2 linked regions of the Homo sapiens genome follow. Changing the gene in region 1 together with any one later gene gives a genetic interaction. Each region holds a gene or a part of one and is shown in the gene's direction. Other genes may lie near its edges. The genes, in order: SMC1A and CDCA5.

Evidence for each region.
Region 2: of SMC1A (region 1) and CDCA5, a change in one rescues a mutant of the other (synthetic rescue), as found in Homo sapiens cells (one study listed by BioGRID).

Annotation. Positions count from the first base shown.
Region 1 is NC_000023.11:53,398,389-53,405,654, reverse strand, and holds part of SMC1A (structural maintenance of chromosomes protein 1A), read left to right. Parts: coding exon 1-162; intron 163-263; coding exon 264-410; intron 411-505; coding exon 506-643; intron 644-1,761; coding exon 1,762-1,878; intron 1,879-1,982; coding exon 1,983-2,089; intron 2,090-5,924; coding exon 5,925-6,066; intron 6,067-7,266. UniProt on the Homo sapiens protein: Involved in chromosome cohesion during cell cycle and in DNA repair. Central component of cohesin complex. The cohesin complex is required for the cohesion of sister chromatids after DNA replication.
Region 2 is NC_000011.10:65,080,775-65,088,893, reverse strand, and holds the start of CDCA5 (sororin), read left to right. Parts: upstream 1-4,853; 5' UTR 4,854-4,915; coding exon 4,916-4,961; intron 4,962-5,170; coding exon 5,171-5,265; intron 5,266-5,343; coding exon 5,344-5,409; intron 5,410-5,494; coding exon 5,495-5,530; intron 5,531-8,119. Other genes in the region: CATSPERH (cation channel sperm-associated auxiliary subunit TMEM262), read left to right, coding at 1-36, 144-243, 363-439; ZFPL1 (zinc finger protein-like 1), read right to left, coding at 780-966, 1,461-1,578, 1,820-1,966, 2,102-2,174, 2,286-2,479, 3,668-3,779, 4,094-4,195. UniProt on the Homo sapiens protein: Regulator of sister chromatid cohesion in mitosis stabilizing cohesin complex association with chromatin. May antagonize the action of WAPL which stimulates cohesin dissociation from chromatin.

The DNA of each region.
Region 1 (7,266 bases):
AAACTCCGGGAGCTGAAGGGGGCCAAGCTAGTGATTGATGTGATTCGCTATGAGCCACCTCATATCAAAAAGGCCCTGCAGTATGCTTGTGGCAATGCCCTTGTCTGTGACAACGTGGAAGATGCCCGCCGCATTGCCTTTGGAGGCCACCAGCGCCACAAGGTGTGGATTCCCTTGCCCAGGCTGGAGCTGGACAGGCTCAGTACTGGAGATTCATTTGTTCAGCTTCTCCCCCTCTTCTCTCTTCCCCCTGCTGTGTGTAGACAGTGGCACTGGATGGAACCCTATTCCAGAAGTCAGGAGTGATCTCTGGTGGGGCCAGTGACCTGAAGGCCAAGGCACGGCGCTGGGATGAGAAAGCAGTAGACAAGTTGAAAGAGAAGAAGGAGCGCTTGACAGAGGAGCTGAAAGTAAGCCACAGGCAGTGCTGTTTTTAGCAGTGGGAGTCCTAAGCCTAGGTCAGCCACCACCTTACCACCTAGCCCTTCTTTCTTGTTCCCTTCAGGAGCAGATGAAGGCAAAACGGAAAGAGGCAGAGCTGCGTCAGGTGCAGTCTCAGGCCCATGGACTGCAGATGCGGCTCAAGTACTCCCAGAGTGACCTAGAACAGACCAAGACACGACATCTAGCCCTGAATCTGCAGGTGGGGCCTGGCCTTCAGCCCTGTTCTCCAAAGGCCATCCACACATTCCTGGCCTAGGTTTCTCTGGGGGTGGGGAACTTGTTTCACTTCCCCGTCTCCTCCCAGCCTGCCGCAGGGAGTCAGGTATAGCATAGAGTCAGACAGCCAGGGGTTCAGAGCTTGGCTCTGCCTTGAGTTTGACATTAGGCAAGTATTTTCACCTTTCAGTGTCAACCTTCACATCTTTATCTGTGAAATGCGAGTTAAGATGATACCTACTCGGCCGGGCACGGTGGATCACCTGTGGATCACCTGAGGTCAGGAGTTGGAGACCAGCCTGGCCAAACCTGTCTCTACTACAAATACAAAAAATTAGCTGGGCGTGGTGGCAGGCGCCTGTAATCCCAGCTACTTGGGAGGCTGAGGCAGGAGAATTGCTTGAACCCGGGAGGTGGAGGTTGCAGTGAGCCGAGATCATGCCATTGTACTCCAGCCTGGGTGACAGAGCGAGACTCTGTCTCAAAATAAATAAATGATACCTACTTTATAGGGTCATTATTGAATGAGTTAACATGTAAAGTGCTTAAGACTACCATGTGTTCAGTTTATGTTATGTGCTATTGTTAGCATAATTTATTCATTCAACAAATTTGAATTTTTGAAAGTGAGCTATGGGCATTTCAGTCCCTGCTTGTGGTAGTGGGCGGGGCGGGGGGGGACTGTTCTAGGTATATTAATGTGTTTTGTTTTTTTTACTGACTACTTCCCCAGACCGCCCTAGAGGTTTTATATGTAGTGTGTGTATTTATATATCTTTTTCTAAACTCAAAAAATCTAAACTGAATTCTGAAACAACTCTGCCCCCAGGGGTTGTAGATCAAAGACTGGGACCTATACCTAATGATGTTTACTGTGTCCCCAGCCCTGTGGATTGAAGCTGGCTGAACTGGATGCCAGGGAAGAAGCCATGTGATGGCTTCAGTGCAACATCATGGAGGCTTGACTAGGGCAGTAGTGCTAAGCCAGGTTCTCTCAGTTGTGGAGAGCTAGCCCTTCCTGACTGTGGGGCCAATGCAGTCAAGGTAGCTTTTTCTCCAAGGAGCCTGGTCTGCTTTGTCCTCTCAACCCATTGCCTGTAGGAAAAATCCAAGCTGGAGAGTGAGCTAGCCAACTTTGGGCCTCGCATTAATGATATCAAGAGGATCATTCAGAGCCGAGAGAGGGAAATGAAAGACTTGAAGGAGAAGATGAACCAGGTTGGTAGGGTGTGGGCCATGCCAGCGTGTGTGTCAGGGCAGGACTGGGACTGGAAGCAGGACAGACTAAAAGGGCCGATGCCCTCCCTGGCTTCTCTTCTCAGGTAGAGGATGAGGTGTTTGAAGAGTTTTGTCGGGAGATTGGTGTGCGCAACATCCGGGAGTTTGAGGAAGAAAAGGTGAAACGGCAGAATGAAATCGCCAAGAAGCGGTAGGTGGGAGGATTGGTAGAAGAGATTGGCATGCCCTTGAGCCTCTAGCTTGACATCCTTGGAAAACCAGATGCTGTCATAGGCAAGGGTCAGCTCTTAGAACTATGTGAGTTTATGTAGCTAGGCCTTAAAGAACAGAAATCAGGAGGGCAGTATGGCATAGTTATAGTGGTTAAGAGTGCCAACTCTAAACTTGATTTTCTGGATTCCTGGATTACAACCCCAGCTCCACAACTCGTTATCTTTGGCAGTGACTTGACTTCTGTAAGCTGCAATATCTGCAAAATGGTATAATGATACCTATCTCATGGCATTGTTGGGAGGATTAGGTGAAATAATTTTTTTTTTTTAAGATTACCTGTTTTACCTTTTTTTTTTTTTTTTTTTTTTTTTGACACAGGATCTCACTCTGTTTCCGAGACTGGAGTGCAGTGTCAATCTTGACCTTCCCAGGCTCAGGTGGTCCTCCCACCTCAGCCTCCTGAGTAGCTAGGACTACAGATGTTTGCCACCACGCCCGGCTAATTTTTCTTTTTTTGTTTTTTGTTGTTGTTGTTATTGTAGAGATGGGGTTTTGCCACATTGCCCAGGCTCGTCTTGATCTCCTGGGCTCAAGTGATCCTCCTGCCTCAGCCTCCCAAAGTGCTAGGATTATAGGTGTGAGCCATATTGCCGGCCCTTTTTTTTTTTTTTTTTGAGACAGAGTCTTGCTCTGTCGCCCAGGCTGGAGTGCAGTGGCATGATCTCGGCTCACTGCATTCTCCACCTTCCGGGCTCCCGTGTTCATGCAATTCTCCTGCCTTAGCCTCCTGAGTAGCTGGGACTATAAGTGCACGCCACCATGCCCGGCTAATTTTTCTTATTAGTAGAGATGGGGTTTCACCATGCTGGCCAGACTGATCTCGAACTCCTGACCTCGTGATCCACCCGCCTTGGCCTCCCAAAGTGCTGGGATTACAGGATGAGCCACCACGCCTGGCCCCAACCCCCGCCTGGCTTTTTTTTTTTTTTAACCTTTTTAAAAGGTATTTAGCAGCTTACATATCATCTACTAAGAGCAAGAAATAGTAGCTTTTGTTGTTATTATCATAATGGGCAACGTGAGGTGGAGGGAGGCGGGAGATGAAATTCTTGGTTGAAACAATAGTCAGAAGAAAATAATCTTCTCATTTTTCCTCACTTTAGTTGATTCATTCATTCAACAAACCTTTGTTGAGTACCTACCTTGTGCCAGGTTGTCTTGTGCTAGGTATTGGAAGGGGGACAAGGGAGATGGAGGTAAGACAGATGAACACAACACAGTCTTTGCTGAAGGAGGTCATCCCTTGTACCCTGGGCTTCAGTTAGCAGTTTAGCCCTTTGCCCATACAGTAAATATTCATTGCTGTCCTACTTCAAGCCAGTCTCAAGGGATATAGAATTGAATCAGACTGTATTTCTTTCCTCAGGAAACATATAGAGTACTGGGGGAAACATCAATTTGAGGACAGTGTGATCAATGGTGTAATTAAGGTAGATACAAAATACTGAAGAAATTTTCAAGGAACTGCAAATCAACAACAGGAAAAATAAAAAACAATGACAAGAAACCCAATGGAAATGTGGCTAAGTACTTATGATACCCAATGCAATGAAAAAAGTAAAAAAAAAAAAAGTGGCAAATAATATAGATAGGCTTTCATGGAAAGAGAAGTTCAAGTGGCTAATGACCATAGGAATTGAGGTCTAACCTCTTAATCAGAGAAATGCAAATTTAAAAGTCTGACAGTATTAGGTGGAAATCTATAGATGTCCTGTGTAGTATGTGAAAAAAATATATGTGTATATATATAATGTATATATATACACATATATAAAACCTATGGGTATATATCCCTGAGAGAGTCTTGCCATAGGGTCCCAAAGAGATACACATTCAGTGTCATTCATCTTGGCATAACTTGTAGTAGTGGGACATTGGTGGCAATGTAGATGGCCATTACTGGGGGAGCATAAGTCAAATGAATATATAGACTGGAATACTGTGTGGGAGTTCACAGCAAGAACTAGATTTGTGGGCAGTAATGGATAACTTATAAACCTGGTATTGACCAGAAAAAAGAATAAAATTTATAACACAGTAGATTTGTGTAAATTTTAGAACTAAGACATTTTACAAGGATATGCATTTTTAAGGAATGCATGTGTGTATGTCACTTTGTGGTGCATGTTCACAGTAGGGAAGGTAATGGGAATGGAAATTGGGGATTGAAACAAAGAGGACAAGGGAAGGGTCTTGCCCAGGCAGTGGTGATAAGTGTGTTATGAACTGTGGGATATGATTAACTTGCTTCTGCACCTAAAGTCTAAAAAGGGAGGAACCCAACAAAGTGTAATAGAAACTAGGAACCTGCTCAGAACCGTCAGGAAAGGTTTTACAAAACAGGGAGTGATGACTGGAGACCTGAAGAGTGAGTAGGATTTAGCCAGCCAGGCAGCGACAGAAAAAGTGAATTCCAAGCAGAGAGAACAGCATGCTTGGAAGTGTGAGAGAGCATGCCTTGTTCTGGATACTAAGTAGTTTTTAATGTCTGGAGCATAAAAGCAGGGTCAGGAAGAAGGTGGGGAGTGGTGGAGAGGTCAGCAGGGGCCGGATCACAGAGGCCTTTGTGAGTCATACTTAGGAGATTGGATATAAAATTGCATAGCTCAAAATTATAGAGTTAGTTATATTTCATTTGGATTATAGTGGCTAATAGGTTTAAGCTGCTAGCATGACATCTGGCAACATCTGTCACACCATATTGGGAGTTGGAGAGGGCAATTGGAAGTTAGTCCTGCCTGGCCTGCCAGTGCCTGTGTATGCTGGTTGCATACTCTTGAGTTTCTGAAGAGATGGAGAGGAGGACAATAGCAGGAATCCAGTATTTTCTCCATGTTTTTGTACTATCCAAGTTCTGCCCTTTAAGAGGTTCTGGGACCTTGGGGCAGAAGTTGGGATGCTGTAGTTGAAGCCCTTGGACAAAAGTAAGCTGAGTACAGTCAATATACCTGGTGATAATGGTAACTAAAATTGATTGAGTAGTTATCGTGGACTCGGTGTGGTTCTAAGGACTTTATACATATTAACTCATTTAAAAATCTCCCAATAACCCTGAGGTAGGTACTATTATTATGTTCATTTTGCAGATGGGGAAACAGGTCTGGAGAGTATAACCAACTTGCCTGAATGACATTACTAGTAAGTGGCAGAGTTGAGATGCCAGTCTTCTTAATCCACTACATTATGTTGCAGTGGTGGTATACTAGAAAGAGCCCGGGTTTTGGTGTTAAATCTGGGTTTCAGTCTCACATGTGCCATTTACTAGCTGTGTGGCCTTGGGCAAGGTCTTTTACCTCTTGGCCTAAGTTTTCCTCATTTGTAAAATTAGGATAATAATGCCTACTTGCAGAGCTGTTGATTAGAGGATTAGAGATAATGTATGTAAAGTACATAGAAGCCTAATAGGAATTACCATAGCTGGTAGAATCAGATGGACTCTTTTATGCCTCCTTGTAGGAACTTGGAGGGCGCTGGGGTCTTCATTGTTTAAAGGGGGATAAATAAGGTTTGGCCGAATCTTCCCTGCCTTATGCCATGTCCACAGGGCTAGGCTGAGGAACTTAGTTCTTCAGCTTCAGGGGACCGTTTTATGTGCATATGGATGGATGAAGCAAGTTGTGACTGAAAATCAGTAACTCTGGGTCCCTGAGCCCTGGGTCTAGTTTCCCTTTCTTCCCATAGTTGGATTTTGTACATTGGTTATCTCTGGCTGATGAGATTATGAGTGATTCTCCCCCCACCTTTATACACAGTTTGGAGTTTGAGAATCAGAAGACTCGCTTGGGCATTCAGTTGGATTTTGAAAAGAACCAACTGAAGGAGGACCAAGATAAAGTACACATGTGGGAGCAGACAGTGAAAAAAGATGAAAATGAGATAGAAAAGCTCAAAAAGGTAAGGAAGGAAAGAATTAAAAGACAGACTAATAACTGGGAGGAAAAATGGGAAGAAATACGACAGACAGAAGGATAATGTCCACAACTTAGAAATTTCTCATCTAAATCAATAAGAAAAATACCAAGACCTAAACGGGAAAAATGGATAAATGTCACAAACAGTTCAAGAAGACTTTCAAATAGTCCCTAAACACATACAAATAATTTAGTCTTACTAAAGAAATGCAAATTAAAGCAACAATTAGATACAATGTATTTTGTAACACATCGTGGAAAATGTAAAAACAGAAGACACAATGCTCAATACCAGCCATGGTATAGGAGACCAGTATTCTTTTTTTCTTTTTTTGAGATGGAGTCTTGCTCTGTTGCCCAGGCTGGAGTGCAGTGGCACTATCTTAGCTCACTGCAACCTCCGCCTCCCGGGTTCATGCCATTCTCCTGCCTCAGCCTCCCAAGCAGCTGGGACTACAGGTGCCTGCCACCACGCCCAGCTAATTTTTGTATTTTTAGTAGAGACGGGGTTTCACCATATTGGCCAGGCTGGTCTCGAACTCCTGACCTCATGATCCACCTGCCTCGGCCTCCCAAAGTGCTGGGATTACAAGCATGAGCCACCGTGCCTGGCCAGGAGACGAGTATTCTTATGTAATGTGGCACCATCCTTCAAGAAGCTTCACAATGCATTTATACTCTGTAACTCAGTAGTACCTGAGGAGATCATCCAAAATGCTGGCAAAGCTTTATGCAAACACTTTGATGTTTATAACAAGCATTATTTATAGTTCCAAATTGGAAACTACTCAGTGCCCCTTGGAAAGTGGGAATTTAGCAAATCATGCTACGTTTGTAACATTATTTATGTAGTGTCTTCAAACTTTAGTAATACACAGACCCTTTTTAAAGGAAAAATAGTCCCTAAGATTGCCAGTGTTGCCTTAAATCCGTGATGTTACTTAAGTATATATAAATATATATACTTAGAACACTTAACCAAATGCTAAGACAAAGTTAAAAATTAAATACTAACAAAATGAGCAAAATTTAGATTGACCATGTAAATTCAGTGCAACAAATGATGATGTTTTGCTGAAACCTAGTCACTTCACAGTGTGACTGTGCTACTGACTGCTACAGCTCAGTTCTTTTGAGTTTAGCATGCCTGTGCCACCATGTATTGTGTGATGACTCAATTTTC
Region 2 (8,119 bases), on another chromosome or scaffold:
GACCACATGAGCTTTCACTACACGGTCGTCCTGATGGTAGGCTCAGGGCAGGGACGCAAGGGCTGGCTGTGGGAGACCCGAGGGGCTGATGGAAACCCCACTGTTGTGCGAGGGGGCCACTCTCCCACTGGATGGGCCTACAGTTCTCCCAGGTGATCAGCATCTGCTGGGCTGCCATGGGGTCACTCTATGCTGAGATGACAGAAAACAAGTACGTCTGCTTCTCCGCCCTGACCATCCTGAGTGAGTGGCAGGAGTGGGAGGGTGCAAGAGGGAGCGGGGAGCTTTGGAACCCTGAGATGTGGCAAGGAGTAGCCAGGGAAGGGTACTGGGGCTCATGGGGGGCTCTGTCCCCCGCCCAGTGCTCAACGGAGCCATGTTCTTCAACCGCCTGTCCTTGGAGTTTCTGGCCATCGAGTACCGGGAGGAGCACCACTGAGGCCTGGGGAGTCGGAACAGGGCTAAGGAGGGGGAAGCAAAAGGCTGCCTCGGGTGTTTTAATAAAGTTGTTGTTTATTTCCACCTGCCAGCTCCTTCATGGGGCGAGGGGTCGGAGGCTGGAGACCCGGGAGGAAAGCAAGTCAAGACAAATGCTTGACCCACGGGGACTCCAGGCCTGGCCTGCAGCCACTCTGGTGGACTTGGCTTTGGGTCTGGGGTCTTAGTGTCTTAGGCTTGAGGGAGAGGGGCAGTGAAGAGGTGCCCTCAGCCTCCCCATTACCCCGCCTCTCCTCCACAGAACCCACATCCTAGGCTGGCCTAGCCACAAGCAAGGGGGCTCAGGAGGGGCCCACGCGGATGTGAGGGTTCATGAGTGGGTCCAGGTTGGGATCGCTGTCAGCTGCGGCCCGGCCTAGGCGAGACATGAGGGCAAGGAGGGCCAGGAAGCCCAGCAGTCCCAAGAGTAGCAGCAGCCCCGCCCGCTGGAGCAGGGTCAGCGGCCGCTTCCGAGACCCAGCCCGGCTCCTGGGGGGATGAGGGGAAAATCAGGTCAGGCCCCAGTCCCTGGTGGCCCCCGCGGCTGGAGAGAAGCCCTGGTCACCACCCATTCCTGAGCCTCCATCTCCTCGTCTGTGCCTCAGGGATGATCACTCCTGCACCTGCCACCATAGGGCGTTATTGTGCAGCTCAAACCAGCTGAGGCGCACGACTGTATTCTGGAAACCACAGTGTGTCAGACGTCGGGGAGAATTACAAAGATTAGGGGGTGTCAGATCGGGAAGGGGCCTCAAAGAGCCTGAGTTCAAACCTCCTGTGTAGGAGGCATAGAGACAGTCCCAGAGAGAAGCAAAACACAGCTTCTGCTGCACAGCCAAGGCCTCTCTGCACAGCCCCAGCACCAGGTACTGTTACTCCCCAGAACAAGCCCCTTTTGTCATGAAACCATCCCTTCCAGGACCTCTGGCTCCCATTCCCTCTCCACCCCTTCCTGGCATTCCGCCCTGCCTGACCCTGTGTACCTTAGCAGCCGGGCCAGCCAACCCAAGGCCGGCCGACGTCGGTACTTGTCATCGTCACAGTCTCCATGGAGGCCTGGTGTCCGGTCATCATCCCGCGTATCATACACCTTCCTAGGGGCTACAGGGTGGAGCCACTAGCATCAATAGACTCAGGAAAACTGGCCGCTTTGGGGAGGGCTAGGGGGATCACCTGCTCTCCTCAGTCTGACAGAACATCTCAGAATTGTGAGGAGGTAATGGCTGTGCCTGGATTAAGGAAAGGTTCCTCCGGGTGGGTCTCTGGATCCTCAAGCTCCCCCTATACAAACCATTCCACCCTCTTCCTATCCTTCTGCGGCCTGGATAACTCCCAGGCTCACCGTGAGTCAAGGGCTCAGGATTGCCCATGTGGATCACTGTGTGCTGCTCGGGCCGGCCTGGGGAAGCTGGGGGCCGGGGGGCCTGGCTGTAGAAGGCTGGGGCAGCAGAGGCGCTGTCTACCTCCTCTGGTCCAGGGGTACTGCTGGCTGTGGGTGGAAAGAGAGCCGTCAGCAGAAGCAGTGCATAGAGCTCAGGGGTAGAGCATGTGACTGCAGACCAAGGGAGCTGTCAGCAGAGCAGGGAGGCTAAAGCCCAAACAGTCGGTGGAAGCCACCACTTACCATTAAAACTAGACCAGTCAGAGAAGTCAGACGTGTTGAGGGGCTCGGGCTCTGGGCTCACCACCTCATCGATCTGGAGGAAGGAATCTGGGTCACCAGGCTGCCTAGTATTGTCCCCACCCACCCATCTGACTCAGGTGGGGCCCAGGGCAGATAGATGGTCAGACAGACGAGGGACTCTCACCAGAGGGAGGCCCAGTCCTGCCCGGGCCCAGTTGACTGTGGCCAGCTTCTCTCTCAGTGCGGAGGCCACGGGGCCAGCCAGGTTGGTTGGGGGGAAGATGGGGCCATTGCAGCTGGGGCACTGATAGCCGGCAGGTGCCGTGTTTCGGGGTAGCTGGGCAGCACGTTCATTGAGGCAGGCCCAGTGAAAGAGATCTTAGGGCCCATGAGACAGGGGAGAAGAGACATGAGGAAGAAGACACTTAGGGCTCCTAGCCTAGCAATAGTCCCCAGACCATTGCAGGACATATGGACACATGTGTGTGTGCCAGAGCCTTCTCCTCCCCGTCCTGTTCCCTAAAATGTCAGTCTTCTTGGCTACCACCATCTAAGTCCAGGCAGGTGCTACCAAGCTGTCCAGCTCACAGGGGTAAGTTTGGGTAGGAAGAAAACGCCACCTCCCCTTTCAGTCCTTTCAATGAGTCCTCTCTGGGCCTGCACTCATCATATTCTTTGGGCTAATGGCTAATAATGAACAGTTTCAGAAAAGGTTCCTCGATACACACACAGGCACACATATACATGTACACATCCCTGGGCACAAATGTACATGTCCTTATAAGCACATAATCAAACACAAGTGGCATTCCCTATATCTACACTATGGGTACAGGAGCCCTCACACATACACATCTATACACTCACAGGTTTGCTAACAGGCACCCTCAACCATGCATTCTCTTGCACTCCCACAACACACCTGTGTTCATATGTTCACATACATACATTTACCCATTCATTCACCCCAAGTACAGATCAACACACTAACACTCATTTAAACACACAATGTACATTAAGTGCCTGCAAGTACACACATGCACTCACAAGGAGAAACACATATGGAGCTGACTCTTGCATGAGCTCCTTCAAAAACTGGAGCTAAGGCTCTTACCCCAGATTCAGGTCAAAGTCATGACACATATGTCTGCTGACTTCTTTTAGCTAACTTTAATGTGGGAAACTCACTTCCTCTCTGTTTAGCCTTGGAATCAGTGGTGGATCCTGAATATCTGAAAGCAACATGCCGGTCTGGCTAGCTAATAGTCACGGCCACCAGCATACCCGTAAGCTTGACTGGTTCTCGCTGAAACCTCCAGATTGGCAGGGCTTAATTTTTAGGAAAGAGGAACTAGGAGCTTTAATTTTTAGGAAAGACAGTGAGGCCTAGAAAGGAAGAATAACTTGCCTGAACTTACACAGCAGGTAAGGAACTTTAACAGGACTAGAATCTGGGCTCTGAGACTCGGGGGACTCACTGTCCTGCTGCTTGAGGAGGGCCTGGAAACCAGTCACCAAGCTGGCCCCTGAGGCTGGCCTGATCCCCCCGAGGTGCCAAGGCCTCACCATAGCAGACAAGGCGGGTCGTCTCTCGGCTGGCCAGGGGTATGTTGCACAGGCGGCAATTGGGGTTGTAGTCGCTATCTTGGAGCCATTGCAGGTAGGACTGGACGATGCACTGGAGTGGGAGAGAGATGTCACAACTGGTGCTGGGGCTGCTCGGCCTATCACCCCAAGGTCCGACTGTCTCTTTTTCTCTAGCCACAGAGGAGACTCATCCTTTCGTTTGTTTAATCAATAAATATTTATTGAGCACATACTGTGCACCAGACTCTCTCTTGGGAACGGGGGATATATCAGTGAACAAAATAAATCAAGTCCTTGCCCTTGTGGGGCTTACATTCTAGCGCGGGGCCCCTCATGGATTTGGAGGAAGCCAATACCGCCTTGCCCACCCAGTGCCCTGCTCAGTCGCTCCCCTGAAGGCCCCACCTTGGCGTGATTGGCTACCAGGCAGTGCTCGCAGACGTTGACCCGATGTTCGAAGCAGAACAGGTTGGTCACCTTTCTCTTGGGGCACTTACAAAGCCCCATGATCGATCCTGGGAAAGGGGCATGAGTTGGTAGGAAGTCAGGTTCTGGTGGCCACCACTACGCTCTCACCAGCCCAGTTTCCACTCTTAACTCCCCCAGACACCTCTCATATTCGCCCCGATCTCAGATTCCTGCCCACTGTCCCTCCTTATGCGGAGAAACACCCCCTGCATAAATCCCGCCTCCGGCGACCCCTCAATCCTTCTGGATCCCGCCCCCGGCCAGGCCCCTCCATCAGAGGCTCCCCGATACTACCGGCCCCGCCCCCAAGACCTCTCCTGAGCCCCACCCCCTCCAAGTCCCGCCCCTTCTCTACAGACCCCAGTCTCTGTGTTTACTGATCGGCCGCTGCACTGGTTCCGAAGGGCGGTAGCGATGGCTCGAGGCGCGGAAGGGCAGGGACCACTCTCCCCAGGGCTCCTGCGCCTCTCCCTTCAGCCCCGGCCGCCCCGATTATCCCTCCGCTGCCACGTCTCTTCCGGGTGCGGCGCGCGCTGATGACGCCATCGCGCCCCTGGGCCACGCCTCCGCTGCCGCTAGAGGTGAAGACGGGTGGAAAAGACTCGGGGTTCCGAGGGCCGCAGACCGCTAGCCCTACGTCACTTCCGCTTCCTTTCCCGCAGGGCGGGTAATTCGAACGTTTTTTGCAGCGAGTGGCCTTCCCGGTTGGCGCGCGCCCGGGGCGGCGGCGCTGGAGGAGCTCGAGACGGAGCCTAAGTTATGTCTGGGAGGCGAACGCGGTCCGGAGGAGCCGCTCAGCGCTCCGGTGAGCGGAGGGCGCGCGGGAGACGTGAGGTCGAGCCGTTTGGGGGACGCAGTCCGGTGAAAGATGGCCTCTTCCCTCCCGCTGCCGCCGCCGGAGGAGGCGCCCTTAAAAGGGCTTGTTTGGGAATCTTCTCGCTGTCTCTAGAACCTGTTCTCTGGACTCTAAGGTCTAGAGTCCTCCTCTACCACTTAACTTTTTTCTCTTTCCAGGGCCAAGGGCCCCATCTCCTACTAAGCCTCTGCGGAGGTCCCAGCGGAAATCAGGCTCTGAACTCCCGAGCATCCTCCCTGAAATCTGGCCGAAGGTGAGCCCCAGATTTCTCACTTCCTCCCCTTGTGGCCCCTCACCTAATGTTGAGCTCACGTTCATCCCTCTTCTCCAGACACCCAGTGCGGCTGCAGTCAGAAAGCCCATCGTCTTAAAGAGGATCGTGGCCCATGCTGTAGAGGTAAAGGCTAAGGAGAGTGTTGTGGGTGGTTAGGCGGGCAAAACTGGGGACCAGCTATGTGATCAATTGGTATTGTCCCCCGCAGGTCCCAGCTGTCCAATCACCTCGCAGGAGCCCTAGGGTGAGTTCACTTTCATCTACTTAATTAAGTAGAATCTGGGTCACTCTAGAGCTGGACAGCACACATTGGCTCCTCACATCTGCCCAGGGAGCTGTTTTGCAGTACTGCAAAAACAGTTTGCCTGTGGGCACCTGCATGCATTGCCAGTCTTGATTACTCCCTGAAGACTTAATACACTTAACTTTTTATGCCTTGTGTATTTCTACCATTTTCCTGGAACTTCCTTTAAAAGCTGAGCTATGTCTTAACTCCACGTACTGCCTTTCTAATCCATTATGCCTTCAGCTTTCATGTATGGGTGTTCTGAGATAAGTCATGTGTATGACATTTTTACAGTTTTAGCAGAAGTTATTATCAAAGGATGTTTCATTAATAGACAATCTGAAGACATACTGACTGAGAAATGTGAACTCCTTTGAAGAGCTGATAGGGCTTAGAGTCAACTGGGGAGAAAGACCAATGACAAGTGATAGCAACGTTGTGTACTGGGACTGCAATAAGGAATACTAGATGCTATGATGGTAGCTAACCCAGACCATGTGGCTCAGGGAATGTTTCGTGGAAGAAGAAACATTTGAACTGAGTCTTTAAAGACAAGTAGAGGCCGGGTGCAGTGGCTCACGCTTGTGATCCTAGCATTTTGGGAGGCTGAGGCGGGCAGATCACTTGTGGTCAAGAGTTTAAGACCAGCCTGGCCAACGTGGTGAAACCCTGTGTCTACTAAAAATACAAAATTAGCCAGGCATGGTGGCACGTGCCTATAGTCCCAGCTACTCAGGAGGCTGAGGCAGGAGAATCGCTTAAACCCAGGAGGCGGAGGTTGCAGTGGGCCGAGATCACGCCCCTGCACTCCAGCCTGGGTGACAAAGCGAGACTCCATCTCAAAAAAAAAAAAAAAAAAAAAGACAAGTAGGTTTGTTCCAGGTCAAAGAAGCCATGTTTGCAGAGATTGGGAATTTAAAGAAAAATCAAGGTTCGGGGAATAGCAATTTGTTTAGTGTCTGCAGCAGACCTCAGCAGGGGAGGAAGCACCCTAAGGCAGAGCAGATCCTGATGAGGCACAAAAGCCACACTCATGGCTTGGGCATCATTCTTGGGTCTGTGGGCAGCCTTTGGAGAGTTCTGGGTAAGGTAGTGACCGAGTCAAGTTTGAGTGTTTTAAGAAAGACCCCTCTGGGGGCTGTGGGGAGAATGGTTTTGAGAAGGGCTACCCTGGGGCTCCAAGACCAGTGGAATGACGTGAAGTCCAGGAATTCTGAAGCATGAAGCCAAGGGCGTGAGCTAAAGCCAGGATGATATACAGTACTGGGTTCAGAGGGAATTGCCCCCCAGTGGCCTTCCCTGACCACCCTTACCCTATTGCTGTCACATTTCTCTATGTAATTCTCTTAGGCCTTACCAGTTCTAAAGATAGGGTCTTGTTCTGCCACCCAGGCTGGAGTGCAGTGGCGAGATTTCGGCTCACTGCAGATCTTCCCTCCTCAGCCTCTCAAGTAGCTGGGACTATAGTCACATGCCACCATGCCTGGCTAATTTTTTGATGTTTTCTCTAATTTTTTTTATAGAGATGAGGGTTCACTATGTTGCCCAGGCCGGTCTTGAACTCCTGGGCTCAAGTGATCCTCCCACCTTGGCCTCCTAAAGTGTTGGGATTACAGGCATGAGCCACTGTGCCTGGTCCTTATCAGTTCTTATAGTGTATTTTCTTGCATGTTTGATGTCTTTCTCTCCCCCCTCTAAGAACACAGGCACCTTGAGGGTAGGGACTTCTGCCTTTCCTAGTAGCCACTCATTCTTGTTGATTGACTGAGATTCATGGTACATCGAGCAGGATAAAGTTGCCAGGACCTGGGTGACTGCTTGGCTATAGAGAATGAGGAAGTCGTAGTCAGCAGTGACCACCAATTTGTTCAGCTTCCCTGTGTTTTTTTTTTTTGAGATGGAGTCTCGCACTGTCACCCAGGCTGGAGTGCAGTGGCGCAATCTCGGCTCACTGCAACCTCCGCCTCCCAGGTTCAACCGATTCTCCTGCCTCAGCCTCCCAAGTAGCTGGGCTTACAGGCACCTGCTACCACACCTGGCTAATTTTTTTTGTATTTTCAGTAGAGATGGGGTTTCACTATGTTGGCCAGGCTGGTCTCAAACTCCTGACCTCAGGTGATCCACCCACCTCAGCCTCCCAAAGTGCTGGGATTATAGGTGTGAACCACCATATCTGGCCACCCATTATCTCTTGAACTTCATCTTCAGTTTCTTCCTCTTGCCTTCACTTCAGCCACACTGGCCTCCTTGTTGTTTGACCCTGACTAGTACACTGTGGCCTCAGGGTTGTTGCACCTTCTGTTCCCACTGCCTAGAACTTGGCCATGAGTCACTCCCACACCTCCTTCAAGTTGTAGCTTGAATGTCACCTCAGTGAGGGATGTATTGACCTTTATCTTTTTGCAATTCTAACCTGCCCCAAGCACTCTCTCCTGTTCTGTTTTCCTGTAGTGCTTGATACTGCTAACATAATACTGAATTTTCTTACCTGTTTTTCTCTTAGAATGGGGCAGGGGTTTTCTCTGTTTTATTCCCTGCTGTGTTCCC